7 linked regions of the Homo sapiens genome follow. The protein of the gene in region 7 interacts with the protein of the main gene of each other region in a biochemical or structural test. Each region holds a gene or a part of one and is shown on either strand. Other genes may lie near its edges.

Region 1 (4,307 bases), on a different chromosome or scaffold from region 7:
TGCATTCCAGCGTGGGCAACCAGAGGGAAACTCCATCTCAAAAAGAGGAAGAAGAAGAGGGAGAAGGAGGAGGAGGAGGAGGAGGAGAAGAAGAAGAAGAAGAAGAGGAGGAGGAGGAGGAAGAGGAAGAGAAAGAAGAAGAAGAAGAAGGAGAAGAAGGAGAAGAAAAAGAAAAAGAAGAAGAAAAAGAGGAAGATGAAGAGGAAGAGGAAGGCAAAGAAGAAGAAGAAGAAGGAAGAAGAAGAAGAGGAAGAAAAAGAGGAGGAAGAAGAAGAGGAAGAGGAACACGAAGAAGAAGAAGAAGAAGAAGAAGAAGAAGAGGAAGAAAAAGGTATTATATCACAATAGATTGAAAAGCTAGAGAAATGTTCTCTAGGAAGTAAATTTTAAACAGTGGCTGAAAACGAGTAGAATATCAAAGATAAAGTATAGAAAAAGGGTGTTCTTTCCAGAGAGTGGATGGGACTGGCTGGGGCCAAGTCAGGCATTTCAGAAATTCAAAGAAAAGGAGGCAGAAACATTGAGAGCTGAAGCTAGGGAAGGACATGGGATGATTGATCTGGTTATAAATTTTGGACTTGAACACAGTATAATGACAAGCTACTATAGCAAAAATTTTAGTATGCCCTCTCTTTATACTGCAGATATTTCAACATCTACCTTAGCTTTTTAAATTGATAAATTGGCAAAAATCTATAACTAAACGTTGCAGTTTCCAGAAACCTTGCCAATTTTATGGTTTATTAAATTGCCCTTCATTTTCCTTATAATAAAAAATATTATCTAATGTCATTATTAGTCAGAAAATTTTGTTATTTTTTCCTTTTCATAAATCACATGTAGCAATAGGATCTTAAAATGGACTTCATGTAAGATTTTCTATTCTCTTAGCAAAACTTTACTCCTTTGCTCTTTTAAAACTCAATTTAAGATCTTCTGTTATATTACCCAAGTCGTGACTCTCTCTCAGACAAAGCATCCTCTAATCAACTCTGCAAATATAGTTTCAGCATCTCTGAAAACTTCTTGCCATTTCCTGTTGTTATTTATAATATACTTCTCATGAACTGACTCACACTGCAAATGGCATCTGAGCACCCAGGTCTCATTTTAGTGAGGGAGAGAAATATGTTAAAATAACGAGCATATGACAGTGCTATAGAGGTAACATGCTAAGGAAGCAGAATAAGGAACGATAAATCATCTTGAGGGAAAGTAGGAGGGGGAAAGTTGTATTGTAGGGAGAGACTGTAGTACCATCAAGGACTTAAAGACAAATGCAAGAGCAACCTGGTGCAAGCCTGAAAAAGACCAGGTGATCCTGCTAAGAAATTCATAGAATGCACCTGCCAGGAAAAGATATTGGAGAGTTAAGTGAGAAGGGGGCAGCATAGACTCTAAGCTTTAGATGGCTAAGAGTGGATGGGTGGGAGGAGGAGAAACTTTGGAAAAAGCAGGGGTTCCTTTATCAGAAATTTAGTGAAAAGTGACTATAGCTCAATCATTTTAAAGATCTACTTTCAACATAATCATCTAAAATCATTGACACTAGATTTCTTTTACTAGAGTTTCTACCTTTGCTGCCTATAACATTTCAAAAGATTGTGTTCCTTTACGGTTGCAGTCATTATCAAGTTATATGCAAGTAATAATATATATATAACTAACTGAAAAACTAAATAAGATACTCTTAGAGACTGGCATTGACTAGAAGTATTAGTATAATAAGGAGTATTTACACGATTATCCACATAGGTTTAAATAAGAATGTATATATTCCTCTTTCTCACCCTCATTCTCTCTCTAACACACATGCAGGAGCTGTTATAAGGTGATAAGAACAAAAGTTCTAGCTTCAGAATTCTGTCTTGATTTGAATCTCCTCTCTTTTATTTATTAATAGGTAATCCTTGTCAAGTTGATTACCATATATATAGCTTCCTTCACTCATCACTAAAGTGGAAATAATTAATTGATCTGATGATTAAATAAGATACTATATTTAATTCTTTGCTTAGTATCTAATACTTGGAAGTACTTAATGTTGGAAATTTTTGTTGTCAGTATTGATTCAATAAAATAAATACAGATAAATATTCGTATCATTTCCTAACTTGCCTTCTATGGCTTGCTCTCTGCATGCATTTCTCTTTTGTCATAGTTTGACTTATGCCCCAGTAGAAAGAATAGCCTCCAGAATACTTTTTTGCCAACTGGAAAGTATCATTTAATAATAGTAATGATAATAATAATAGCTAAACATATCAAGAACTCATCAGTTGCATTTTTCTCAATTTTCTCACTTCTCCAGAAGTATCTTCTATTTTGTTAGATTTGTTCCAAGTTCTCTCAGATTTATAAAGCAATATTACAAAGAAACAACAGGTTTTTTTTTCAAGATGGCTGACTAGATGCTTTTCCAGGGTACTTCATCCACTTAGAAGAATGACAATGGTGTGTAGACAATCACACTTTGCACATATGAAAGCAAAATCAAATATTGGGACCCCAAACTCACTATACCAAAGGGCTAAGTTTAGGTAGTTAGTCATGAAAAAACTGCCTTCCTTTCATTCCCAAAAAGCTGTAATTTCATGTTTACTTTATGTAAAATGTAGCTTTTCTGCTCATTAGTAAGATCCTCACAAGAATGTGACCACTTATCTCATTGCCTACCCAGACTTTTTTTCTTTCTTCCTCTTCCTGCTTGCTTTTTCCCTGTTAAATATTGAAGTTCCCAGAACCCTTTTTAAAAAAAAGCACAGGGTACAGATCTCCTTGTGATTTGTGTTTCTTTTTCCCAGGCATGTTCTCAACCTTGGCAAAATAAATCTCTAATTGATTAAGATCCACCTCAGTAACTTTTTTGTTTACAAACATATTATCCAAGAGAGAACACAGGAGTTCAACAGTAACACACGAAGAAACTCCAAAATCTGACCAGAAAAAGAAGAACAGTCAGCCTGTGTGGCTGTGGGACTGGCTGAAAATGAGAAGAGAGTAAATTCCCAATATGGGAGAGGGTGAGTGAGTATCTTTCTGTGGTCCAATTTCCCACTATAGAATCATATAATTCAGGCCACGGTAGAGCACCATGACTTTTCTAAGCCCTAGATCTACCTTGGGATGTGGCTGGGAGACTGTAAGAAGTACCTGCTCTGGGAAGTGTCCCATGCACTTCCCGAGACCTTGGAACCTACAACAGAACACCATTCTTGATCCTAGCTCTTTGCAAGCTGTGCACAGTCCTGAAAACTAGCAGCAGTGGCAGCCTTTGTCATTAAAGAGGCTCTAACAGTATCCTGGGGATCTGGTGCTCAAGCAGGGAAGAGGTTCCCACAGCCAGAACCGAGAATCAAGTATGGCATGGGCTCCAGCCATTGGCATGCTGGAACCAGGCTCACCCCATCTTTCACTTCACCCCCTTCCCCCACCAGTACAGGAGGGGATTTGTTTGGGAGGCATAGTGTTGGGCTGTGCAGTGACTCCTAAGGCCTGGGGCAGCTTGTGTTGACAACTAGAAGTAAACTGCACTAACTAAGTGAACAGCCAAACCTACTGACAAAGTTGAGAAGGTGGTGAGCCCCACCAAAAATGGGGGCATGAGAGAGAATCACATCTCACTCCTCTTGGCCAAGGTAGCAGTACTGAGTCCACACCCTTATGCTTATATGCTCACAAACTAGAAAACCTAGAGGAAATGGACAAATTCCTGAAAACTTACTACTTCCTAAGATTGAATCAGGAAGAAATAAAAACCATGAATAGAGAAATAACAACATTGGATTTAAAATCCAATAAAAAAATCTCCCAACTACGAAAAGTCTCCCAACAAAGAAAATCCCAGGAACAGATGGATCCACAACCAAATTCTAGCAAATGTACAAGGAAGAACTGGTGCCAATACTCCTGAAACTTTTCAAAAAACTGAAAAGGAATTTCTCCCTAACTTATTATACAAATCCTGTATCACCCTGACACCAAAGTCAGCCAGAAACACAATAACAAAAAATAAAACTACAGACCTATATCCCTAATTAACACAGATATAAAAATTATCAATAAATTCTCAACAAACTAAATCCAACACATCAAAAAGATATTACATCATGACCAACTTGATTTTACACCAGAGATGCAAGAATGATTCAACATATGCACACAAATAAATGTCATACATTACCTAAACAGAATTAAGGCCAAAAATCATATGATCATCTCAATAGACACAGAAAAAGAATTTTTTAAAATTCAACATCGCTTCATAAGAGCACAAGCTCAAAACCCTCAACAAATGAAGCATAGAA
Region 2 (4,307 bases), on a different chromosome or scaffold from region 7:
CAGATTTCTGATCCTGTCATAGCTAGCTATTTAGTTATCCTAGCTGCATTTTATGATATTAGTACTTTAGCTGCACAGGCTGGCACAACTTGTAGGACCCCTTGTATTATTTACATCCTAGCTCCTGACTTGATTTTGCAGAGAGCGACTCTTACAGCTCATTTCCCAGGTTCATCCTCCCAGACATCTTGACACTTTGGTGGTCAGGACCAGGAAGGGCAGATAGTCCTTTTCTGCAGCCCACTGAGTGTTCTTTGACTCTCCCACTTCTGGGCTTTTTAGCTGAAATGTAAGTGTACACTTATTTTTTGCTACTAGCCCAGTATTGTTACAAATGTTTTTATTTATATTTCTTTGAATATAACAGATTTGTTTAAGTTTTTTTACTAATACATTTCATCAGTGGGCTTGTTTCTATTTTAGAGAATGGTTCATTAACACTACTGAATCTTTAGACCTCAAAAGATTGTAATTATCTGAAATTATCAACCATATTTTTGGGAATTAATTCAGTTATAAAGTCTACATTGTAGAAATTCCACTGCATTATTACTGTTTATGGAAACCTGTATACTAATAACTCCAATAATGGCAATCTTACATCTAGTTTAATGATTCAAATTGATAAGAAAAGTCTGAGCACATAATCTGATTAATGAATTCACAAAGGGTCTCTCCTATTATAGGCCCTGACTTCTGGTTGGCTTTTAACTGGTGTGTTGGAGCCAAGTAAAGCCACCCCCCTTTCCCACATATGGACTATTTATGGTTATTCAAGAGTAAACACTTGGAAAGAGGCCTATTGGTATTTTTTACTATCTGGTTACCTCCAACTTTGTATAAGCTAAATAAATATAACACAGTGAGCCAATTTGAAAATCTCGAAGAGGCAGTAAGATGGTTGATTTGCAGACCAGAGAGCTAGCTTGCATTTTCATTTTTGCAGACCATATACATAAGCAGTGTGTGGCTTTGGTGGTTTTCCCACATTTATATATATTTATTTACATATACAAATGTTATTAAATAGCCTCTTTGAAAAGGAGAACCATATGCTGTTAGAGCTTTTTGCTACTCTTAGAGTTTCATATGCAGCCTCTTTGAGCAGTTTTGAAGAAAAAAAAATACTGCTATTATAAATTACCTCAATATCATTAATAAAAGTAATATAACTTAGAACATTATTAAGAATAAGTATTTTCAGTTTAATGAAGTCATCAATAATGGCATTTTCAGTTCTGAAGGAAAATAATTACAGCTGTTGATTGATAAAAAAATACATTTAGCTCAAAAATGAGATAGTTTGCTATGCTGATGTTATTTTTACAAAATCTAGAAACAATATTTTATTTGGTTTCTGCTTTCTCTGAATTTCACTGGCAACCATGCATTCCTGGAGGAAAAATCTTTTTCCAGTTGTAGAATATTCCCCAGCCTGCTTCACAAAGATGTTATGAGGCTGCATGTTTACACATGGCTGGATTTTAGCCAGACGTTTTGTAAAGTCATTTGTGATATGTGTGATATGTCTGAATATAAGACAGAAAAATGTGAACCTACAGGTAGGTAGCTTTGTAGCTAAATAGTTGGAAATGGTGGTTTGACTAATGAATCTATATCTGCGTGGATTTTTAGAAGCTGCTTTCTAAATATAATAGAACTTCAGAAGTTCCATTCTTGACCCTGTATTATTCAATACTTTTACCAAGGACTTGGATGACTACCAAATTAATAGATGTTGCAGACTTGGGAGAAAGCAAGTTTGTGTGTGACATCTGTGCATTTGGTGACTGAATTCTGAAAGGTGTTAATAGGTCAAAATCAACAAAATTCAAAATAGTATTTACAACTATCAATCCTAAGTCAATAGGAAGAGGAAAGTCTTGCCTAATGTGGATTTGTGTGAAAAAGATGTAAGAATTTTAGGTGATCATAAACACCTAACTCAGAGCCTGTCATATAACAGATGGTCAGAGGATGTTGGTTTCATCTCAGACCGATTCAGAGAAGAACTCTAATTGTGATAAATGCTAAGAATCATGCTCATCTCTTGTAACTAAAGAAATAATTGAAGTTAGGTGTATTTTCTAAGTGCTGTTACATACCCAAGGATCAGTCACTATACTTTTTTTGAGATTATAAAGGTGAATACATAAATGTTATATGAGTATTGAATAATGCATTAGATATACATTATATTTTACTTTTAATGGTAAAAACCGTAATTACTTTTGCACCAACCTAATATTTCTGTGCTGAAGAATTAGAGTGAAATTACAATTAACCTGGTTTTCTTTCAGGTAAAAGTCACTTATCTAAAATAAGTTTGTATACCTGAAATGTGCTACTTTCCTTAAAATAACAATTTATTTTCTCTAGCTTAAGTGTATTTAATTTGGAAGAAGCAAATTTGTAATCTAGTAAAACTTAAATTTCTGTTCCACTAGAATTAGTATTTATTTCATTAGCACTTGCCCCATGTTAATCTGTTCATTCTCATACTGATCCCATGAAGTAAACACATTTTACAGATGAGGAGACTCATTCAGACAAGTTCTATAATTTGCCTAAGTTATCAGTTAGTAAATGGTAGTACCTAGGACTCTAATTCAAGACCGTCATTAAAGCCCGTGATCCTAGCTACTATTCTCTCCTTGATGCTAGTCACTGTAAGTTAATATTAGAAACTCTGTTTTTAAATGTCTTTAATGTGGTTTTCTTTGTAAATAATGATTGTATAGCATTCTCACCATACTTAGCACTCTCACAATACTTAGTTTCCTGTGGAAATGTCACATAAACATTCCTACAAATTGGAAAAATAAAAGGTTGTCACACTTCGGTCACAATTCTTTTTTTCTAGGTCAACAACTACAATATCAGCAATGTGTCCCATAACTATGCCCGAGCTGTCCTTTCCCAGCCCTGCAACACACTGCATCTTACTGTGCTTCGAGAGAGGCGCTTTGGCAACCGAGCACACAACCATTCTGATAGTAACTCTCCACGAGAAGAGATTTTCCAAGTGGCTCTTCATAAACGGGACTCTGGTGAACAGCTTGGCATTAAATTGGTGCGAAGGACAGATGAGCCAGGGGTTTTTATTCTTGACCTGTTGGAAGGGGGGTTGGCTGCCCAGGACGGCAGGCTAAGCAGCAATGACCGAGTGCTGGCCATCAATGGGCACGACCTGAAGTATGGAACTCCGGAGCTTGCTGCCCAGATTATTCAGGTAAACCCTCTTGGCCTTCATTCCAAAGGCTTGGCCGAAATGATCATATAGTAGTATTTGTTTTCACTGGCCAATAACATCAGAATTCAGGGGACATTTTATATTTCATTAGAAAATCGGGTGTGGCTACCTGAATTCTTTAAAATCCACACTAGTATAACTTCATTGGAGATAGTCTTTTCTAAAAACTATATCCCTGTGAATTTTGGGGATGGTTATTTACAGAGCGTAGGCTCTACTGTTTCACATTCATTTCTCATTTGGGTCCTGGGTTCTACTATTAAGCCAGATGTAGCAGATGATATGTCCACCTTTTAGAAGTGAGGAAAGGGAGGCTCAAAAGAGCTGTGATTACCAAGGATCTGACTTACCTGGTCTCTTAACTCCCTGTCAGGATCTATATAAATAGAGGAAGAATAACTCTTATCTCTATAGTGCTTTGTTGTTGTTTCTAAGGAATTCACAGTGTTTAAAATACATGATAAAATTTGTCCTCATAGCATCTTTGTGACATAAGTAAGGATAGTCATTATTAGAGAAAGAACATGTTTTTCATAAAAGCATGAAGATGGATAAGTTGGAAAGTCATCCAGAGGAGATCTATACATTCTGCAACATGCCATAGCATTTAATGATATGAGCAACTTCTACAGTGATAAGGGTGCAACAAAAAGATGTTTTTCTTAAAGTTAGCAAAACAAAACACTGTAAAGGAAACCAAGAATTATGTAATTGAGGATCAGGAAGTAGGGTAGGCCGATAGTCATTGAAGAATGTGTTTACAACACAGAATCAAATAACAATGAAAATTTAAGACTATAAGAAAATTCAAGTCTCAACTCTCTTTATTGTATTGAGAGGAGATTCTGATATTGGTCTAATTTCATAGACTTGAGGTTTAAAGAAATTGGATGCCTTAAAATTTCCTCAAATCAAAGGCAACATTAGGACCTATATCTGTGGGTATTAGCCAGCAGCTGCACCACTAAAACCCAGCTCATCTTGTAAGAGTGGAGATTAGTGGGAGGGAGGGGAGAAAAGAGGAGGAGGAAGAAGAAAGCTAATAGAGTTATAG
Region 3 (4,307 bases), on a different chromosome or scaffold from region 7:
GATTCGTTAGGGCATAGATGAGAATATAACTTATTTTTAGAAATTTTAAAGTTGATATATTGACATGGAAGCTGGTGTATTCTAAATTATTGTGATCTTTTTTAGAAGACTGAAGAGATGGCTATTTCATAACATTAGTCTAATCTACCTGTTATACATTTTTCTCAACCTCTATATTATATTTAACAATAATTCAAGATTTAGAGCATTAGTAATATTAACTGTGTTGAATAAACATCCTATGCCCCCGTATGTAGTTGACATTATTAGAGTAATACAGTTTTGCCCTCTTGACAGCCACAGACACTGTTCTATTTTAAAGATTTAGCCAAAATAAAGGGAATAACGTATTAATGGCCACAGAACATTTTGTAGTCATTAGTAATAAAGTTCTGAATACTACACTTGTTTTTTGAAGAGACACTTTGTGTCAGTAATTTCTCAAGATACCATTATGTCTGTGTTATTTGAGATTAATATTGTTTCTAAGCAGGTTGTAATTTAAAATTTTTAATCTCTTTTAAAAATAGTATTCTTAGCTTCTTAATAGCCTCATGTTAGGTATTATATTAAATGGCTTTCTTAAATGGCTTTGCTTAAAAGCAACATTTGTTATAAAATAGCAAGATTTTTGCAGGTTAAACAGACTTTAAATACTAGAAATTAAGAATTTGAAGAGGTTATCTGTAGAACTTTTGAGTTTGATTAAAAACAAATATTATTTTCAGAAGAGACAAAGATTCTTTATTGTGATTCATTTTGGAAAGGATGAAAATAGAGTAAGGGAATTTAAAAAGAAACTTGCCATAAACATTGTTTTATTTTTTGCTTTTATCTAAACTTTGTGACAGAAATTGATTTTTCAATTTAATAAGGTATTGTAAAGTGTACTTAGCACTCTCTTGTCTTGACTAGTTGCTTTTTATTAAACCATATTCATAACATGACATTTAGAGACTAGCACAGTGAAAGAGTAAAATTTAACCATTTTTGTAAGATGTAATACTAATCGGAAATGTTCTCATATTGTCTTCTGACAAAGTCCATGGCAGAAGGATGAGCTGGGTTGTAGAACATGGCTTTTGTAGCACTGATTCTTCCTAGCCTTCTTTTCACTTAGGTGCTAAGGGTCGCCCTCCCAAAGCCAGTACTATCAGCCAGGTGACTTAACATCTTTCTGGCAGCTACTGTCTTTAGCTTTGATTTTTTTTCCCTTTTTTTGTTGTTATAATCTTTAATAGAGAATTGAAAGTTACTCTTTAAAATATGGTTTCTAATCTGAAGCTTTTCCTGAATCAATTAGGTAGTTTCTTATTGTTTTAGTGTAGTACTTAGTAGTCAGTACTTTGCCCGCTTATAGAAGAATCTTTGGTTTCACCTATTGCTTGGCTCGATTAGTTACTTGTTTCTTAATTATGACCCTGTTGTTTATTTTTCTGCAAAGAGAAAAGTTGTCATTTGAGTTTGAACTTTGTCTTTTCCCAGTAGTAAAGTTGAACTTTGGACCTCTGGTGAAATTGTTTTGTGATATACTACTATGACTAGGTTTAGTTTCTTTGATTTTACTACAGAGTATATATTCTTAAACCATTTCTATTCTGATTAATATACAAGTAGTGAATTTTGTTCTGAAATTCCCCAGACTCTAATTGTGCAGAGTTTTATGCTTCTTCATACACCTTTAAGCTCATATTTCAGCAGTTTGCTTTCAGTAAGTTTCAGTAAATTATGTGTATTTTATTCCAGAGATTAAGTATCGGTACAATAAATACATGAAATCATTGTCTACTGCCATATGCACACATTACATTCAACTACCCTAAGCAAGTAGTGTATCCAGGGATGGAAATCATAGGAAACAATGTTATAGTTTGTTTAAATAAAAACCAAGTTGAAACAGTTCCTGGGTAATGTTAAAGGTAGGTAAAAGTCTTCACTGCTGACTCTTTGGGACATCCAATTTGTAAGGGAGTTTTGTTAAAATGGGCTAATTCCTAGAAATACACTTCCTGTTGGTGAAGAAACACTACTGGATGCTTTAAAATAGGAAATATTTATGTTATTCAAATAAAAATAATGCTGTGCCTTTCTTATCTCTTGAATCTTTTTGTTAGTTTTTTTTTTTTTTTTTTTTTTTTTTTTTAGTGGGATATTTAGGATTTTTGATGAGTTTTGTTTAGGTGGTTGTATTATATGAGGATGGGAAAGGTAAGAGAATTTAGAGTTAATTGTTAGCCTCCCAGGCTTACAATACATTTCTTCGTACCTTTTTTAAAACAAGAAAATCTAGAGACCTAGAGATTATTTTAGAAACAATAGAAAAAGAAGCAAGCCAAGCCCCTTTGCTAGGGAAAGTAGCATTACATTTTGATAAACCTTGAAGTTGAAAATTTCCTATTTCAAATTTTGGTAGTTTTTTTTTCTTTTTTCCCTAAAGCTCTTAATAACTCAGGGGTTCAGGTTTTGGATTCTGTTCATTGACACCTTCAATTCATATGAGTAATGGGCTTACACCTTAGCAATTGCAAGCTGATTTGCTTGCATGATATTTGATGACTTTTATTATATCATTAACATCTTTGTACTTAAAAAATATTTTCTCTCCATCATTCTCTAAGAGTACTATATCCAAATATCTCAGTATGTATATATGTATATACGTGTGTGTATATATATATTATATGCATATATGTATATGTATATACACACACACATACTTTTGTTAACTTTTCTTGTATATCATTTTCTAGTATATCATTTTGGGTACTTTATTGATCCTGCCCTCACCCCCAGACTTTTATAATTTAGTTTGTAAAACTTTATTTTCCTAGGTTGAGGCATTTTAATAATTCTTTAATTTCTTGCTATCTTACTGGTACAAACAAATACTTAACATTTGGCCATTTGATTTTTAGATGATTTTAAATTTTATTCAGTTTATTGCTAAAACTGATTTTCATGTAACATAACTCTGTGTTCCTGGGACGTATACATTATTTTTCCTCTGAGATCCTGGCACATACTTTATAAAACCTTTTGTTTTGAGAGACAAATTTTTGTGATTTTTTTTCTGCTAATTTATGTAAACTGGCGACAAAACAAATCTTCTAAATTCATTCAAGTGTCTGACTTATGAAGTCAGTGCCTAATCTTCTCAAGTGATAGTTTCATACAGAGTCTTTACTATGTAACCCCTAAGTGCTTTGTAATTTTTGGGGGGACTTAGTGTTTTGGGAGTATGTTGAAAGAGAATCTTGTTTTTATGGATTACTTCAGTATTATTTACCAATTTCAAAATCTGTGAATGTCAGGGTTGTGTGTGTGTGTGTGTGTGTGTGTGTGTGTGATTTGACAAAAGATAAGTGTTTTGGTATTGAAGACTAGAACCGTTTCGCCTTTAATAAATTATTTTTTGTCTTCTGAAATTTTGAGCAATAATTTTCTTGAAATACTACATTTTGGTAGATAGAGTGAATGCCCTGAATTTAAAACTATTGTCTAAAGTAAGAGTTTCAGAAACTTAGAAGCTGGTGTTATGAGACATGTTTGTAGGGAAAGAGGCAAATCCATTCATTGCTCTTCTAGCTAATTTTGCTAACAAAATATCTTGCTAATATTTTGTTTTTGAAGAACAACTATTATTCAGAATGTTTTCCAAGAAAAGATGCATATTTTATTTAATACAGAAAAAATAAGAAGTCCTATTACTGGCACGCATTCATTCCCTCAGCAAATACTTAGTGGTGCACCCACCAAGTGCCAGCATGGAGCTAGCACTGGCGATATAAACATGAGTCAGAAATTGTGTGTCTTCAAGAAGCTGGCAGTTTAGTGGGAGCTTAATGACTCATTGGTAAGGAATACCTGTAGTAAGGGTTTTGCCTTTTTCACTTTTCTGCCAGTGTTTAAAACTCTTTAGGTAGGTCTTAGTATGAATTTTGGTGAAAATGAGACTAACTGGCTGCATAGTGTGCTATTCGAAAAAGTAGTGGAGCTGCATTTTAGAAAGGATTTGGGTTCTCAAGTCATCACAAAAAGAGGGAAATCAAATATAAGCAAAACTGTCTTTTCAAAAAGCCCTTAAATTGTGCATAAAATACTATATTGTACTGTTTGTAGGATGAGTCCAAATGCCACTTTTCCACCCATGTTGGAACCAATTGCAGTTTTTTGGTCGAATACCAGAAGAAGTAATTTGCTTGCATTAAAAAGATATGTTTTACAAAAAAACTTTTAATTCTAAGAAATTATCCTCATCTAGGTATGTACAGTGAATTTATGGAAATTAAATGTGTACATGAAGTGAA
Region 4 (4,307 bases), on a different chromosome or scaffold from region 7:
TTTTTTTAAACAACTTTGTTGAAATATAACTCACGGCCAAACACAGTGGCTCACACCTATAATCCTAGCACTTTCGGAGGCTGAGGGGGGAGGATCACTTGAGCCTAGGAGTTTGAGACCAGCCCAGGCAACATAGTGAGACCCCCTTCTTTACAAAAAACAACAACAACAAAAAAAATGAGCCTGGCATGGGGGCACATATCTGTATTCCCAGATACTCCGGAGGCTAAGGTAGAGGATCACTTAAGCCCAGAAGACGGATGTTGCCGTGAGCTGAGATTGCACCATTGCACTCCAGCCTGAGCAACAGAGCAAGACCTTGTCTCAAAAAAAAAAAAAAAAAAAAAGGAAGAGCTATAACCCATACGGCACACAATTCACCCGTTTAAGATGCTTCTAGTGTATTCACAGATGTGTGCAATCGCCGCCACAGTTAACTTTAGGACATTCCATCATCTGTAAAGGAAACATCCCCTACCTTTAGCTACCATCCTGACATCCTGATAGACAGGGGGCCTGAAGACCCCTCGGTGATGCAGGGCAGGGCTGGAGTGGGGGCCCTGGGCTGACTTTATTGCTCGCTATTGCTGCCTTGAAATTCTGAATACGTTTTTAAAACAAACGCACCATCCTTTCATTTTGCCCTGAGCTCCACAGACGATATAGCTGGTCCTGAAGTGGGGCAGAGGATCATTCTGACTTGGAGTCAGACTCTAGCGACGCAGGCTTCTACTGGGTGGAGGCCCAGGAGCTCAGGAGCCTTCTGTGGGAGTGTGCCCATTGGCAGCGCATCCCTGGAGATGGACGGACAATTTCCACATCGCCTTTGCCCCTGTGCACGCTCCCTCTGGCTGCCGTCATAAATTACCACAAACTGGGTGGCTTAAAACAACAGAAATGTATTTGCTCATGGTTCTGGAGGCCAGAAGTCCACACTCCAGGGGTGAGCAGGGCCGCACCCCCATGAAGGCTCCAGGGAGGGTCTGCTTCATGCCTTCTCTTGAGTTTCTAGTGTTGCCACCGACCCTTGGCGTGTCACTCCAGTCTCGGCCTCTGCCAACATGGGGTGATCATGGGGTGTCTAGGCCTAGGGCCCTTCTCCTCCTCTTCTTCTTCTTCTTTCTTTTTTTTTTAAGACAGGGTCTTGCTCTGTCGTCCAGGCTGGAGTGGAGTGGCACTACCTCAGCTCTGCAACCTACACCTCCCAGGCTCAAGCGATCCTCCCACCTCAGCCTCCTAAGTAGCTGCGACTACAGGTGTGCACCACAACACCTGGCTAATTAAAAAAAAAATTTTTTTAGGCCAGGTGCAGTGGTTCATGCCTGTAATCCCAGCACTTTGGGAGGCCGAGGCAGGCGGATCACTTGAGGTCAGGAGATCGAGACCAGCCTGGCCAACATGGTGAAACCTTGTCTCTACTAAAAATAAAGAATTAGCTGGGCATGGTGGCATGCACCTGTGATCCCAGATACTCAGAAGGCTGAGGCAGGAGAATTGCTTGAACCCGGGAGACAAAGGTTGCAGTGAGCCAAGATTGTGCCATTGCACTGCAGCCTGGGAGACGAGCAAGACTCTGTCTCAAAAAAAAAAAATTTTTTTTTAGCAGATTTTAGCAGAGACAAGGTCTCACTGTGTTGCCCAGGCTGGTCTCAAACTCCTGAGCTCAAGCAATCTGCCCGCCTTGGCCTTTCAAAGTGTGGGATTACAGGCATGAGCCACCACACCCAGCCCTTCTCCTCTTGTTATAAGGGCACCCATCCCTGGACTAGGGCCCACCCTAATGACCTCAACTTGATTACGTTGGCAGAGACTTATTCCCAAATGAGGTCCTACTTACAGGTACTGGGGGTCAAGACTTCAGCATTCTTTTGCGGGGGGCCACAATCAGTGACACCCTGACTCGCAAGCCTCAATCACCTGTTCCAGTGAGAAACAGGACTGAGATCAGAAGGAATGAGGCAGAGCTGCCCTCGATTGGTTCTCCTCTCCTCCTCACCTGCCCACCCCGGCCTCTGCGCCCGTCACTGTCCTCTCCAGCTGTTCTTCCTTCCGGGCAAGGAGACTCAGCAGAAGGGTATGAGTGGCCTGGCCCTGTGGGGAGCCGCAGACAGGCCTGTGGGTGCTTTGGATAACTACTGCGCCTGTCAACTCTCCTTGGTAGTCTAGGGTTCAAAGCCCAGGTCCATTCTAGAAGTCTGCTTCCAAGTGCTAAGGAAGCTTCAATAGTTACTGGGAAAACCACAGGGGTCAAAGGTCCGTCGAGTTATTTCCCGGATCCGAGTCTGACGTCTTTTCCCCGCCGCTTGCGGTGGTTGTGACCGAACCTTGAGTTTTGGAACAGGTCACATGGCTTTGAAATCACGGTCAATTCACCTGGTGCTGCTTTGACTTCAGGCTCTTCCTTCTGCCCAGCTCCGTCCCACCCAGCAGCCCGCAGAGAAAGGAGGCAGCTGGCACCACACTGGGCTTTGGAGACACTGCGGGGACTGTGGACCCCACCCTGCTGCACGGAGCTCCTGCAAAAGCAAACCTGAGAACCTTGGTGAGTACTTCCGGAGACCCGGCTCCTGGGACGGCTTCTGGCGCTGCTCCTGCACACACGACTCTCCAACGATCATTTTCCATGTTTTATTTTTATCTTTTAATTTTTGAGATGGAGTCTCACTCTGTCACCCAGGCTGGAGTGCAATGATGCAATCTCAGCTTACTGCAACCTCTGCCTCCCAGGTTCAAGTGATTGTCCTGCCTCAGCTTCTCAAGTAGCTGGGACTACAGGCACCCGTCACCATGACTGGCTAATTTTTGTATTTTCAATAGAGACGGGTTTCCACCATGTTGGTCAGGCTAGTCTCAAACTCCTGACCTCAGGTGATCTGCCCGCCTTGGCCTCCCAAAGTGCTGGGATTACAGGCATGAGCCACTGGCCCCGGCCCATTTTCCATTTTTCAGATGACAGGTGTTGATTTGCTCTGATTTTCAAGTATTTTTAGCATACAGATCCCTGCAAGAGGCATCTGTCTCCAGTGGTCCAGCCTCTCCTTCCAAATGAAAAGAATCAAGTCACAGGAATTCATGGGTCTGTAAGGAATCGCTCCCATCTGTGCCCAGGAGATTAACAAAGGCGGTGGCTGCAGCTCTGTGAGCAGTGGAGAAAAATTAGGCACAACCTGATATCCTCCCACAGGAGCGTAAGTCCACTGTGGTTATTCATATCATTGAATCCAGTGCACAGTTTAAAGGACCATGCATGTATCAAGCTGCATGTATCAGTATGAGAAACCTCAGAAGCCGTACAGCCTTGCACAGAACGATAGTTTCTGTGAAGTTCCAGCTAACACTGAAGGCACTGTTGATGTAAAGCTGCTGTCTGCACGAAGTATCATGCAAAGATGCTATGTACTGTTTATACACACTTCCATTTGTAGGAAATGATTTTTAAAATATCATTTTTAGGCTGGACTGTAATCCCAGCACTTTCAGAGGCTGAGGTAGACAGATCACCTGAGCCCAGAAGTTCGAGACCAGCCTGAGCAACATACGGAGATTCCATCTCTACAAAAATTAAAAAAGAAGCCAGGCATGGTGGCGCATGCCTGCGGTCTCAGCTACTTGAGAGGCTGAGGTGGGAGGATTGCTTGGGTCTGGGAGCTCAAGGCTGCAGTGAGCCACGATCACGCTACTGCGTTCCAGCCTGGGCAACAGAGTGAGACCCTACCTCAAAAAAAATCATTTTTAAATGATTTTAGAATGTCTGGCCAGAGAGGGAGGGAAGAGGGACTGAAGAGAACAAAAAGGCGCCATCTGCCTCGCATTTCCTTAAAAAGAAACCTGAAGTGCAGAATGTCAAGATGGTTGAATCCGCATGGTAGATATGTGGATATTTGTTATTTGCAGGATTTTTTAATATGCTGAAAACAGTGCACAGTTTTAAAACATTTTAAAATTATTTAGATGGATTAATGGGCTAATGGCCTCATGTTGATGCCAGAGAGGGGCTCAGGCAGGGGCACAGTGGGGTACACAGCTCATCTCTCGCTGGGATGGGAGGCTGGGCAGGTGACGGCTGAGGACCTCCAACAGCTCTTAGAGTCTGCACTAGCCAGCATGTCCCCTGAAGAGCAGGTGTTCCGGGCTGTAACGGCGACCTGCTTCGTGTATTCTGTCCAGACAGACCTGGGCTTGGGACATCAGCCCTGGTGGTGGCCCCAGATCAGCTGCAGCTCAGCCCTTTCGGGGACCTGTCCACCCTCTGTCTGCCTCGCCATCTTTGTAAGCCCACACCCCCCGCAGCCGAGCCGTGCTGGCCG
Region 5 (4,307 bases), on a different chromosome or scaffold from region 7:
TCTCTATTTAGGCTTCTTTGCCTTGGGAGTACTGTGTATATCCAGCAGCGAGTCATTTAGATCCCTTGTGAAAATACATGGCCACTGTTTGTAACCGACAGAGACCAGCCCTGTAGTCCACCGTGGGTCTCTATCTCTCACAGGGCTCTGGCCATTTTGCACATGGTCTTCCTACTGTGTTTCACCTGCACTGGAAAGATTAATTTTGTTTTACTTAACTGCTTGTGAGCTGGCCTTATAGCAGGTTAAGAAAGTGTCCTTCTGGCTTATAGGGAAGCTGTAGAGCCAGGAAACCATGTGGAGGCCCATCTTCAAATCAGGGCTAGACGGGGTAAGAGGAGGCTGGTGCTAGATCACGGGGAGGGCTGCCAGTCTCTGGTGTCAGCCCTGCCTGGGTTTAAATTCCAACTTGGATGCTTCCCAGCTGTCAAAGGATTGTGGTAGTGGGGAGAAACAAAGACATGATGTGCATGCCTTCTGCTTTTGGACTGTGGATAATCCTCTGACTTGGAAATGCGTATCATAGAAATGCAGACTTGGTGGTAGAAATAACAGATTCAGCCATCAGGGAAAATTGGTTGGTGAGGCTCTGCACAAGAACCTGAGGTTCCGGAACCCCAAAGCCACAGCTTTTCTTTATTAACTTAAAGAGGCAGGAGGGAGGGCAAGAATAAATTCTAGATTTTATTCATACACCGACACACACACACACACAAACACACAGAGAGAGTAAAGAGACTAATATTTTATATTGTTAACAAGCTTTGTTTTATACCCTTAAATGAAGAATCAGTTACCCATCAATCAGATGCCTCAAAGTAATTATTAAATGAAAAAATCTACTCTTAACTTTAATTGGAAAATTTCTAGCTGCTGTCTTTTTTTTTTTTTTTTCTTGAGACAGATTCTCACTCTGTTGCCCAGGCTGGAGTGCAGTGGCACGATCTTGGCTCACTGCAACCTCCGCCTCCCTGGGCTCAAGCGATTCTCCTGCCTCAGCCTCCTGAGTAGCTAGGACTACAGGCGCCCGCCACCACGCCTGGCTAATTTTTTTGTATTTTTAGTAGAGATGGGGTTTCACAGTGTTAGCCAGGTTGTTCTCCATCTCTTGACCTTGTGATCCTCCCGCCTCAGCCTCCCAAAGTGCTAGGATTACCGGTGTGAGCCACCACGCCCGGCCCCTGCTGTCATTTTTAAGAACAACCTGTATCCAAGAAGCCAAATCCCTTTTACTCCTAATGCTTCTGTCTGCCCAGTATCAAACCAAAAGACCAGTCAACACAAAGGAAAAATTTCCTAAAAGTCCCGCAAAACCATGTGATTAATCAATATGGGGGAAAAAGCACAAAACTAAAAATAAATTTCAAAAGATTCAACCTTAATCAAAACAGAATCATCAAACCATAGAAAGAATTATGGAGAAATAATGTTTCCTTTTCAAGCTATTTCTTAGATTTCTTTCATTTGCTCTTTAGAAAAATAGTACTTTACTGAGGTTAATCAATTAGAAGGTCATAAGCAGAAAAATGAGAATGAGAGATATTATAAAATAGCAAGTGGCCAGACTTTTAAGAAACTGGGTCATCATCAACTAGAAAGAGGGCAAACCTACAGCAACCCCGCTTGACAGCATGCTTCAGTACTCTTCCAATACCACAGTCGGTTTTTCTTTCAGAATTAAGCAATTCTATAAAAAGAGACTGTTCTTACCCTCATCCTCCCATTCCTTATTGCTGGTCCATCTTCTGCCAGTCTCAACACATACAAATCCATTTTGTATTCCCTTCCTCCACGAATGCTGAATCCAAATCCTTTGGCTCCTTTCTCCATGTCCACAGTGAAATAATCAAAATCCTTTGGGGTTGGGGAGAAAATGGAATAAATAATTATTTAGTTATCAGAGAAGCTTCTGTGGCTAGTCTCTGTGTTCTCCTTCTGTCTCTTAGTTAATGTATTCCAAATGACATGATGTTGGGAGAAGTCGTAATCTGGCTTCATAAACTACCCAAATGAAAGACAAAATTCCAAAGGTTTGAGCAGGCCAGAGCACAGTTTACTTGGTCATCAAAGAATTACTGTGTAGCTTGTTTACTTTGGTATTCATCAGTTTACTTGGCAAACGTGGAATGATTACAGATAGGCCTGAGTGACATCATCTCTCCTTTTACTTCTCTCATTCACTGCTATTGAGCACCATAAATAAATGTCAGGTGTGTGTGTGTGTGTGTGTGTGTGTGTGTACAAATTACAGAGTTTGCTGATTAGAAAAGTAAAATTTAGTGGGATCTGATAATTAGATCTCTCAGTTGCACAGACTATTGAATATCAAGTTGGAATGTACAAAATCAATTTCTCTTTTACCTAAAATGCAGTATGTCCAAGATTCTCTGATCTTCACTATTCTTAAAATCTTTGGGCATAAAGTTGATCTTCAATTCATAATAAAACACAATGTAATCTGATAGAGTTGAGATTGTACTTAATTTATATCTTGGTATGTAGTTACGAAGTAGGAAATATTTTCTAGATACCAAACTCTGGTCTAGACTCTTTTCATAAATGTTGAATCCTCATCCTGGCCTGTAAGGAAGACTCTCCCTTTAGGAAACTGAATCTCAGAGAAGTTAAGGAAGTTGACATGAAGCACATCAACAAATAATCATAACAACAGTGACACTGGTTGTGTAGACAGAGAGTTGTTGGCTGTGGCAGGCGCTACACTCTGGATTGTGAAGCCAAGCCTGGTCTTATTCTTACGCACAGGGGCTTGGCCCTTTATCACAGAGTGGCAGGTAGGGGGCCACGTAAAAAAATATGGACCTAAAATACCTCCACTGCTAGCATCTATAAAATTTTCTGCATTAGCAGCACTCTCAGAGGTCCCAGGTTAGAGCATTTTTAAAACTTTGACAAGGAAACGTACAAGGAGTTAGCTAGTATTAGCAGGGATTAGTTTATTCCATTACTACTCATCCGCTATTTATTTATGTATTTATCCATATTTATTTATTGTCCTGCTTTATTCTGAAATAGATTTATTTATCCAGCATGTTTCTGAGGATGCAGGTGTTACCCCGATGTTACCAGAACTAGGAATAGAACTTCAGCTCTCCATCCCAGACAGGTACTCTTTCCTCTGCCTCTCCTATTTCATTCCTTGCAGTTCTCTGGAAGCCTTGGTCAGGACCCACCCTGCTCTCCGGGAGGAGGTACCTGGGGTTGTCTGTAGTCCGACAGAGGGTACTGCCTGGTGTCGGGGGAGTGCTGCCTGTAGTCCAGTAGGGGAGGCTGCCTGTAGTCCAAGGGTGGGGGCTGCTGGTAGTCCCCTCCTGGGGGTTGCCTGTAATCCAGCGGGGGCTGCCTGTAGTCTGTGAATGGAGGCTGTCGGATGTCTGGTTTCACATCTTGCCTTGCTTTCACTTCCGACCTGTAACTAAATCAATGGAAATGGGATTTGCTTTTGTAACTCTGCATTCTAAAGAGGCTAGAGTGATCACACGGCCTCCAGAGGTGGGCCAGCCATGACAGCTCACACAAACCACTCCTCTCGGTGGTCCTGTTGGATGCTCAGGATTATGAGAAGGTTAAATATTATTTAAAAATCTCTGACAAATGCCATATTGTATGCTTTTTATTTGGCTCCTTACGAAGTCAAGGTAAAAATGATGGTTCAACCAGAACCTTGTGAAAAAGCACTCATGGATGTTCCTCTTTGACTTTGGCTATTTAAAAACTGTACAGCCACAGCAAATCAAGGGATTGAAGCACTGAACTATACAAACCAAGACATCAGCCTATCTTAAGACTGGTAAACCAACCTTCCTCTCTCACTCTTACTTTTTTCTCTCACACACACCCCTTGGCAGATCATTCATTACTTCATAAAAACATGATTGAAGTGATCTCTAAATACATTACAAATACACAATCAAAGGCTATTTTAACCTGCTGAGTTGGGTCTTTTTGAATATTTTACAGAGGTTAAAGGAGTGATGGTAAAATATAATCACCAACTACAAACCAAGTGGCAAGTCATTGGACCATTGGTAAAATTGGAAACATATTACACAGAGGTAATACTAGATCATAGCTATCAAGATTAGCATCAAATACTACTGTGGTCATAAGATGGAAGAGAAGGCAAAAATGTTTATGTCCAACATTTATCTCTTGCTTGCTTCTAGATATTAGTTACTAATGAAATAAACACAGAGATGAGAGCTAGGAGTGTAGCATTGTTTTGTGAATCCAAACTGCTTTAAGCTGAGGGGGTTACTAGTTTCAAAAGAAATAGCCAATCCCTACCA
Region 6 (4,324 bases), on a different chromosome or scaffold from region 7:
TTGGGCCTCAGTTTCCTGGTTCTGAAGAGAGGGGCCAGTCAGCACAATCGTACATGAGGAATAGGAAAGTTTATTTCTGGGGGATTGGCAAGATGAATGGATGGCTCCTGGGGTGCAAGGCTGGGTGACATTTGTAGACACTTTGTTTGTATTTATTTATTTTTTAGTAGAGACAAGGTCTCGTTATGTTGCTCAGGCTGGTCTTGAACTCCTGACCTCAAGCAATTCTCCCGCCTTGGCCTCCCAAAGTGCTGAGATTACAGGCGTGAGCCACTGCGCCTGGCTAAGTGTGTTATTTTGAGCAAGTAATTTCCCCCAGCTCAGCCTTAATTTCTGCATCTAAGACATGCATCTCGTCTCCTGGAATCAGGATCCCAGAGGTACCCTGAGGGACACACTCTCCAGACTAGAAGTTGTTTTTATTCTCATCTCATTTGAAGTGGGGGAGAATCATAACTGGATGGCCAGGAGGATTCAACCCAAGGGCCTGCCTGCTCTCTCTGCCAACACAGGGCCCCTCAAAACTAAGGAAAGAGCTCCCCTCTTTCAGCCCCGGTTGCCGGAAGAGTGAGTGAATAGTGGAAGGGATGAAACATACTTTTCCTAGTGATGAGTATGTGCTTTCCAACTCTGTGAGGACACGTCTGAATTTCTGAAACAAGATGAACCTGGTTCCACTTCAACACCTTTGCACTTGCTATTCCCCCTGCTGTCAATGCCCTTCACTCAGTGCTTCATATACCTGGCTTCTGGTCATTCAGGTTGCAGCTCAAGAGTTATGTCTTCAAAGAGGCCAGAAGCTCACCATCATCTCCCACAATGTAACCTCCTTTTGCTAGCTTCATAGCTTCATGACTCTCACTTCTCTCTGAAATTGTCTTTTTTTTTTTTTTTTTTTTTTGAGAAGGAGTTTTGCTCTTGTTGCCCAGGCTGGAGTACAATGGCACAATCTTGGCTCACCGCAACCTCCACCTCCCGGGTTCAAGCGATTCTTCTGTCTCAGCCTCCTGAGTAGCTGAGATTACAGGCATGTGCCACCACACCAGGCTAATTTTGTATTTTTAGTAGAGATGGGGTTTCTCCATATTGGTCAGACTGGTCTCGAACTCCTGACCTCAGGTGATCCGCCTGCCTTGGCCTCCCAAAGTGTTGGGATTACAGATGTAAGCCACGAGCCTGGCCTTTTTTTTTTTTTTTTTTTTTTTTTTGAGATAAGGTCTCACTGTCACTCCAGCTAGAGTGGAATGGTGCAATCATGGCTCACTGCAGCCTTGACCTCCCAGGCTCAAGTGATCCTCCCACCTCAGTGTCCCAAGTAGTTGGGACTACAGGCATGAGCCACCACTCCCAGCTAATTTTTAAACTTTTTGTAGAGACAAGGTCTATGTTGCCCAGGCTGGTATCAAACTTGTAGGCTCAAACAATCCACCCGCCTCCGCCTCCCAAAGTACTGGGATTACAGGCACAAACCACCATGTCTGGCCTGAAGTTTTTTTTTTTTTTTTTTTTTTTTTTGAGACTGATTCTCGCTCTGTCACCCAGGCTGGAGTGCAGTGGTGCGATCTTGGCTCGCTGCAACCTCCACCTCCTGGGTTCAAGCAATTCTCTGCCTCAGCCTCCCGAGTAGCTGTGATTACAGGCACCTGCTACCACACCTGGCTAATTTTTGTATTTTCAGTAGAGACGGGGTTTCACCATCTTGGCCAGGCTGCTCTTGAACTCTTGACCTCGTGATCCACCAGCCTCGGCCTCCCAAAGTGCTGGGATTACAGGCGTGAGCCACCACGCCTGGCCTGGTTTTTTATTTATTCATTTTCTCGTCTTTTTTGTCTGACATCTGTCTACTCTCATTACATACATCAGCTACACAAAGAAATTTTATGTCTTGTTCCTCCAGCATCTCCACAGTACCTAGCACAGTGCAACATATACAGTTGGGGTTCAATTAATACTTGTCAATGCAGGTGAAATTGAGAGGACAGACTTGGGAATCAGGCCTTGATTAAATCGTGCTTTGACCCTCCTCTCTGTAGCTATCTGCACTCCCTGGGCCTCACTTTCCTCCTCTGCGAAATGGACATATTCGGATAGTTGAGTAGATGTGCAACTATTGTAGATGAAAATAAATATTGCAATAAAGCCAGTAGCAGGGATAAAACTAAGTACATGGTGGCTGGGGTTACTATTATTAGTCTCCTGGGTGTGACTGTATTTATAGACTGGGGCTCTTGAGCCCTTTGCTGACTTCTGAAGAACCACACCTCCACCAGGCTCTAAGTCAGGGGTAGCTGGAAGCCACCCTGGCACACTTCCCCACAATGTCTATCTACAGCTCTAACCACTCAAGTGTTCACCTCTTCACCCTCCAGCTCCCAGCTCTCGCAGCTTGTCTTCACCGTTCCTCTTTCCTCTCCAAGGCCACCTGGACTCTCGCATTCCGGTCCTTTAAATTCTTTCTTCCTTCCCCGTCCCCTCCCCACAGGGGCGAAAGTTGCCCATTCCGTCAGACCACAGCTTCCCTCCTGTGGGGGGATGGGGCCGAGTGCTCAGGATGTGGTGACAGCGGAGGTGACTGGACATTTCTGTCCTCTGCCAGCGCCTTCCTCGCGGCTACCCCGGTTGGAGTCCCGCTGGCCATATAAGCCCTGGCTGTAGGGCTCTGTTCCCAGGGTGAAGGAAACTCTGGGCCTCTCCCGTGCCGGGAACGCCCAGTGTGTGGCGTGTGCACACAAGCCCGGCTGCAGTTCTTCACCATGTACGGAAAATGGGGGCACGGCCCAAAGGTTCTAACAGCCTTTTTTAGCCCGGCCCGTCCAGGGGCGCTGACTCACACCTTCCCCACTCCGCCCCAAAGGGGGCTCCAGGACCCCAGCCGGTGCCCGGAGAGTGGTAGCCTACGTGCCAGCAAAAGCTGGCAGACTAGGCCGGAAGTGGGAGACCGCAGGCCTCTGGCGAAGGAAGCTGCCCTGCTTCTAGGCTTCTAGCCTTGCTATCCCGACGTCAGCTGAGGGTCTGTATGATTCCGAGACAGGACTGTGGATACACTGGTGCAGTCCTGCCACGACAGGCTCACCTCTGCATTCTCCATGCCATGCACAATAATTTATGTGTGAGACCCTGTACACCTCCAAAAAGGTGAAATTAATGAATAAGGAGAGGAGCAGGAGACGGCGAAGAGAAAAAGAAAGCACGCCAGACTGAGGACCGGCAGAAGCAAAGATAACATGTGCAAGCAGGAAAGCAGCAGCACGAAGCTCGTCAGCGATTACTCAAGCAGGATCGACCCACCTGCTCCTTTACAGAGTGGCCCGGGCAGCCCCACCCCGCCTCGAGCGCCTGGCAAGTCAAGACCGGATCGAACCATTTTATTACCTCCCCCTCCCAGAACCAGAAGCGCAGGCTAGCCGGCTGGAAGGGTCGTACCACTGACGCTGCGAGGGGAGTGTGGTCAGAGCCACTGAGCAGCGGGTGGGGGGACCAAACCAAGTGGAAGCTCTTGGGGAGGTGCCAAGTGCCCAGCGGCCACACGCGCCGGATCCAGGTTGGGCGGTAACTAGTGAGCCCCGCGCTGTCAGAGGTAGGCTCAGTGTCTCCGCCTTCCGGCTGCCATCTCCTGAGCGAGCTGCGCTGCCCCCCGGACCCCTAGGGCCCGCGAGAGCCGTTCCTCGCTGGGCACTAGCCAGGGCCCCGGGGAACCCGGGATCTGGTCGTTGGGATCCTCAGCGCGGCGCTCAGGAGGAGAAACCGTGGGGCCATCGGCGGCCGCCTCTGGACTAGGCTCCGGGCTGCCCCGGGTCTTCTTGAGCGTCGTCCGGGATGGAGGGTGCTGAACTAGGGAAGTGCTGCTGCTGCGAGACCCCGTTACCTCCGGCCCTCCAGGATCTGGGCTGCGATCTGGCCATGACGGGACTACGGATTAGATTGGGTGGTGAAGTAGGGAAGGGAAATCCAGGCCTTTGGCTGAGGATGGACAGGAGAACCCAAAGGCTGCGGGAGATGAGACCCTGACCCTTAGAGAAATCTCCCCTCCAGGCCTTCTGGGATCGGCACCACCCCTCACAACCCCGACACCTCCTTTCCCGAGACCCCTCCCCTCCTGGATCCAGAACATGCCCCTCAGAAATCATTTCCCACAATCTCCAAAGGAAATCAAACCCCGCTCATCTAGGAGCCCCTGCTCTCTCCTCTCTCATCCCACCTCCGTTGACTCCCAAACCACCGACCCTTTGTTTTTCAGAACTAGACCCCCTACCCTCTGGATCCCCATCCCATTTTCCCCCGGCTAAGATCCACTCTGCCTTCGCCTCTGAGAACTAAGACCCTT
Region 7 (4,307 bases):
GTTCATCCTTTGCATGTGGCTTCAGGGTGTTGCTGTGATAAGATAAATAGTCTGGGAAGAATAGATTATAAGCTCATATCATTCAGCTGCCTGTGTCCTAGCATCCTGAGTGGATTTGTGTATGCTTTCATTAATTTTAGGAATATTGCTATTTTCTGGCTGTGTAAAAGCATTATAGTCCACTGCTTAGCTGCATATTTACTTATTAAATGTTGCCTGAGACTGACTCAGCAAATTCTGCCAGTATCTCATATAAAATTCTTATGTCTCATTCTTATGTTTCATAAGAAATGATCACAATGATCATGTTTGGGGTTTGGGCATTCCTTTAATCTTAATTTATTGGGGAGTGCATTTTGTGGCATTTCAGAGTGTTAGAGCTGGAATAAACCTGATACTTTATCAGGTTTGATCTCTTACAGGTAAGAAAAAGTACAGTGAGTTGAAGTGGCTTTCCTATGGACATAGTACTCATAAATGATAGAATCAGGTCTGGATCCTTATTTTTTTATTTTTATTTTTATTTTATTATTATTATACTTTAAGTTTTAGGGTAATGTGCACAATGTGCAGGTTAGTTACATATGTATACATGTGCCATGCTGGTGTGCTGCACCCATTAACTCGTCATTTAGCATTAGGTATATCTCCTAATGCTATCCCTCCCCCCTCCCCCCACCCCATTATATGTTGGCCCAAGTTCTTTGGAGCTTTTCCTAAAAAATAAACACTGGGCCTTAGTTTTCCTATAAAACTACAGAAAGCTCTTTGAGAAGCTATTTATATGGTATGTGGAGCATTGAAAGATTTTGTTCCCATCTTTTATAAAAGCAAAAGGAATAGTATGCTTTGGACTAGTCCTACTATTTGTAATATATCACATTATGTTCTTTTTAGAACATTCCAGATGTATGATATGAATGACTTTTTCACTTAGTTGTCCACTATCCTATTATTTCTTCTCATTGAGTCATGTATATTTAACAATGATTCATAATTGATTAGTCAAAATTTGGTTACTGAATTATTACAATTTCTATAGCAGATTTTAGAGTATAAAATTATAGTGTAGCGTTGAACAACTCTAGTATCTATTGAGTAGGCAGAAGGTGTTTAAATGGAATTGAATTGAGCTACAATGTGTTACTAGCCTAAGATGCAGAAGATTCAAACCTGCCTTCTGCCCCCCTTTCTGCTTGTATACAATTGATAGTACCTTTTTCAATTTCCTCTCCTATGCATATTCATATGTAAGAATAAGACCATGTGGTGGCATTTGTGTTTTATTTTACTTTAGGATTTTAAAAAATTTTCTACTGTAATTAGAACATTATCAAATAGGCATGAGATATTTCTTCCTTCTCTAGCACTGCTGTTTAAATACAAATATATTTTTATGATGTCTTTGATGCCAAGATACTGGGATTTCCTTGGGTTTCATATATATTTCTAAAAGATAATTGGAAGGGCCGATATTTAACAAGATGTAAAGATCCCATGGCATAAAGAGAAAAGGGAACCCTGGAAGGAACATCATGTTTGTCACAGGATCTGGGTTCCTGTGGAATAGCAGACGAGGCAGAATTGAGAATGATTTGAAAAAAAAAAAAAGAGAACAAACATTGCAAGTTGCTGGTAGGCTTATGAAGTTAATGCTAGTGGGATACCTTTGTTCACACTGAACTGACTTCGTAAATCACAGCCCCATTTCAGGCACATGAACCCTGTCCACCACCCCTCATTCTAGCTTCAGTCATCAGCATCCACTACTCTTTGAATCTTATGTGTTTATGAGAATTACATGAAAAAATTCATATAAAGTACAAAATATTATGCCTGATACTTACCAGAGTCTCATCAGATTACAGCTATCAATATCACTATTATTACTCTCACATCATCACCATTATGATTATAACTACTAATGTCACACATCCCTGGAGCTGGCATTTCCCATTGGTTTGCCAAGTTCAGTATGGATCCATTTGATCCTTAAGTATATTTCTCTTTTAAAAAGATCTCTGAAATAACTCTATCAAATATAAAATTGACTCCAGCATATCTGTGTCTTTCTGAGAAGTAATGTTATTGACATATCTATTAACTAACTAAAACGTTCAACTTCTAAAAAGATACAGAATTAGGTCTGATGGGCTTGGCCTAACATATAAAGCTATTGGGAATAATAAATGACTCTAATCTTTGGGGAAGATATTTAACAATTTTATGAATACAAACTTTATTAAAACTATTAGCTCTCCCTATTCTAATAAATCTAAGTGACATAATATAATTTTTTTAAGAATTATATTTTTATATACCAAAGTAAGGTTCTTAAACATCATACAAGCACTATAGTGACTTAAGTTACTATGCTCCTAAGATATTTAAAAATATATATACATATAAAACAAGAGTTTATTGTGTAGTAGTATGAAAAAGGTTAGATTTCAGAGAAACATATGGAGTCATACTTTACACTAATTAAAAATTAAGTCTCCCAATCAATAAGATTTTGATACTGACCTTCCTGGGAATTCCTTTTTTCAGACATAGGAATCTGGGTCCTGTCCAGCTCACTAATACGATAGAGATCGTCAAATTCCCCCCAGCGTGTCATTCTGAGAAGTAATAAATCTTGTAAGTACATCAGTTCCATTTATATTGAAGCCTATGATGGTTTCCAGATTTACAATATTAATATAGTAATACTGTGGGCCTCTGTAGGTGGATATATTGTCCAAAGTTATAACAATTTTATGATATTATTAAAATTATATTCATACCAAAGTGGTCAATATATGTTTTAAATGCTTCCTGTACTTTTATAGAGCATATCTTTTTGACGTAATAATTCAGTTACATACTGAAACACAAGTTATATAGATTCTGTAAAACATATGTCCAAATTGAATTAGTAGAAACCAAGATGATCAATTGTTATAAAGATATTTCACAATACTCTTAGGGGAGCTTGGGTATAAAAGTGTTCTTTATACATTCTGTCAATATGTATTGTACCTTTTGCATTCAAAACATTGTTAGGTAGAGTGGCTCTAAAATAATAAAATATAGTGCCTATCGTTTAAGGCCCTTGACTACCATGAAGAATGTAGTTTACGAAGGAGGAAAATGTATGAGAATTTTGCCAGAAAATTATGATTTCATAAAGAAACTAGCAATTTTAAGTGCATTCTAGTGCTCAGAATACATGAAACCTGACAAATGTTTATTTTTACGGCAGGTCAAAACTCAATTTTATTTTATTTATCTGGTCTTAAACAAGTTTCTTATCCCCTCTGTGCCTGTGTCCTCATCTGTAAAATAAAAATGATAATAGCATGAGGTAGGATAGGGTTGTTTTGAGGATTAAAAGAGTTAATTTGTATAAAATTCTTGAATCAGTGCCCTGAAAATAGTAAGCATTCAATATAGATTAACAATAATTATAATTATCCTCATCTCCATTGTCATCATCATCATCATCATCATCATCATCATCATCACCAGCATCTGTATCTATTTCATTCCTGATGGGCCAGGAACCATTAGGGACCCAAGGTGTTCCTGGATCTCTCTAGGCAAATGGTTGCTATTATCTAAGAATCTCTTCAGTAATGTCTGTTTTTCTTATGACTAAAATATATTCACTTATAGGGAATTTATGGCATTGACTCTGCCCGAATTTCATTGGTGGCAACAAAAAATATTTATTAATACTAATGGTAGTGAATATGAAGAAAGTCATCCCTTATCCTCTTTACTTTTGAATTCTTTTGAAGCGTGTTTTATGGCTACTATATCATTTGAGTCTCACAATAGCCTTATGATGTAGAGAAGGTAATCCTAATATATTTGTTAATTTTCCAGCAAGCTGTACTATTCAGAATACAGCCAATCAAAACAAATGTCATAAAGCCCAACTACAGGTAATAACTTTAACTCAAAGGAAAACTACCAGGTCCTGACTCAGAATCTAATTAGTCTTATGGCAGATAAAATTACCCATTTCCCCAAATCTATAGCAGCTTAATAATCAGAAAGTGGCAGACATAATTATCGTAGAAGGGGGGTTAGGAATGGAAAAGTCAATACCAATGAAAAACAGAAACTAAAAATGCAAAGTAACCTGATGCTATGTCATAGGGCTAAAGATAAGAATCCCCAGGATGCCAGTCAAATTCTCGGTGACCCTCGCAGACGTGACAGCTTAGTTTTGTCACACAAATATAGGAGGCCAAAAGTCATCCAATATATTCTGTGTTTGGCCCCTTATTTTTTTCTACCATCTACAGCAGAAAACACCA

The links.
Region 1: the proteins of RASSF6 (region 7) and SNTG1 interact in a test that uses a peptide from one of them, tested with the Homo sapiens proteins (one large-scale study listed by IntAct).
Region 2: the proteins of RASSF6 (region 7) and LNX2 interact in a test that uses a peptide from one of them, tested with the Homo sapiens proteins (one large-scale study listed by IntAct).
Region 3: the proteins of RASSF6 (region 7) and MAGI3 interact in a test that uses a peptide from one of them, tested with the Homo sapiens proteins (one large-scale study listed by IntAct).
Region 4: the proteins of RASSF6 (region 7) and CARD14 interact in a test that uses a peptide from one of them, tested with the Homo sapiens proteins (one large-scale study listed by IntAct).
Region 5: the proteins of RASSF6 (region 7) and MAGI2 interact in a biophysical measurement, tested with the Homo sapiens proteins (one large-scale study listed by IntAct).
Region 6: the proteins of RASSF6 (region 7) and MAGIX interact in a test that uses a peptide from one of them, tested with the Homo sapiens proteins (one large-scale study listed by IntAct).

What each region holds. Positions count from the first base shown.
Region 1 is NC_000008.11:50,697,600-50,701,906, reverse strand, and holds part of SNTG1 (gamma-1-syntrophin), read right to left. Parts: intron 1-4,307. UniProt on the Homo sapiens protein: Adapter protein that binds to and probably organizes the subcellular localization of a variety of proteins. May link various receptors to the actin cytoskeleton and the dystrophin glycoprotein complex.
Region 2 is NC_000013.11:27,561,338-27,565,644, reverse strand, and holds part of LNX2 (ligand of Numb protein X 2), read left to right. Parts: intron 1-2,863; coding exon 2,864-3,232; intron 3,233-4,307.
Region 3 is NC_000001.11:113,392,974-113,397,280, forward strand, and holds part of MAGI3 (membrane-associated guanylate kinase, WW and PDZ domain-containing protein 3), read left to right. Parts: intron 1-4,307.
Region 4 is NC_000017.11:80,176,114-80,180,420, forward strand, and holds part of CARD14 (caspase recruitment domain-containing protein 14), read left to right. Parts: intron 1-2,394; 5' UTR 2,395-2,542; intron 2,543-2,981; exon of another isoform or gene 2,982-2,990; 5' UTR 2,991-3,188; intron 3,189-4,307. UniProt on the Homo sapiens protein: Acts as a scaffolding protein that can activate the inflammatory transcription factor NF-kappa-B and p38/JNK MAP kinase signaling pathways.
Region 5 is NC_000007.14:78,123,984-78,128,290, forward strand, and holds part of MAGI2 (membrane-associated guanylate kinase, WW and PDZ domain-containing protein 2), read right to left. Parts: intron 3,434-4,307; coding exon 3,214-3,433; intron 1,855-3,213; coding exon 1,711-1,854; intron 1-1,710. UniProt on the Homo sapiens protein: Seems to act as a scaffold molecule at synaptic junctions by assembling neurotransmitter receptors and cell adhesion proteins. Plays a role in nerve growth factor (NGF)-induced recruitment of RAPGEF2 to late endosomes and neurite outgrowth.
Region 6 is NC_000023.11:49,165,659-49,169,982, reverse strand, and holds the end of MAGIX (PDZ domain-containing protein MAGIX), read right to left. Parts: intron 3,910-4,324; coding exon 3,584-3,909; 3' UTR 1,209-3,583; downstream 1-1,208.
Region 7 is NC_000004.12:73,585,314-73,589,620, forward strand, and holds part of RASSF6 (ras association domain-containing protein 6), read right to left. Parts: intron 2,622-4,307; coding exon 2,527-2,621; intron 52-2,526; coding exon 1-51.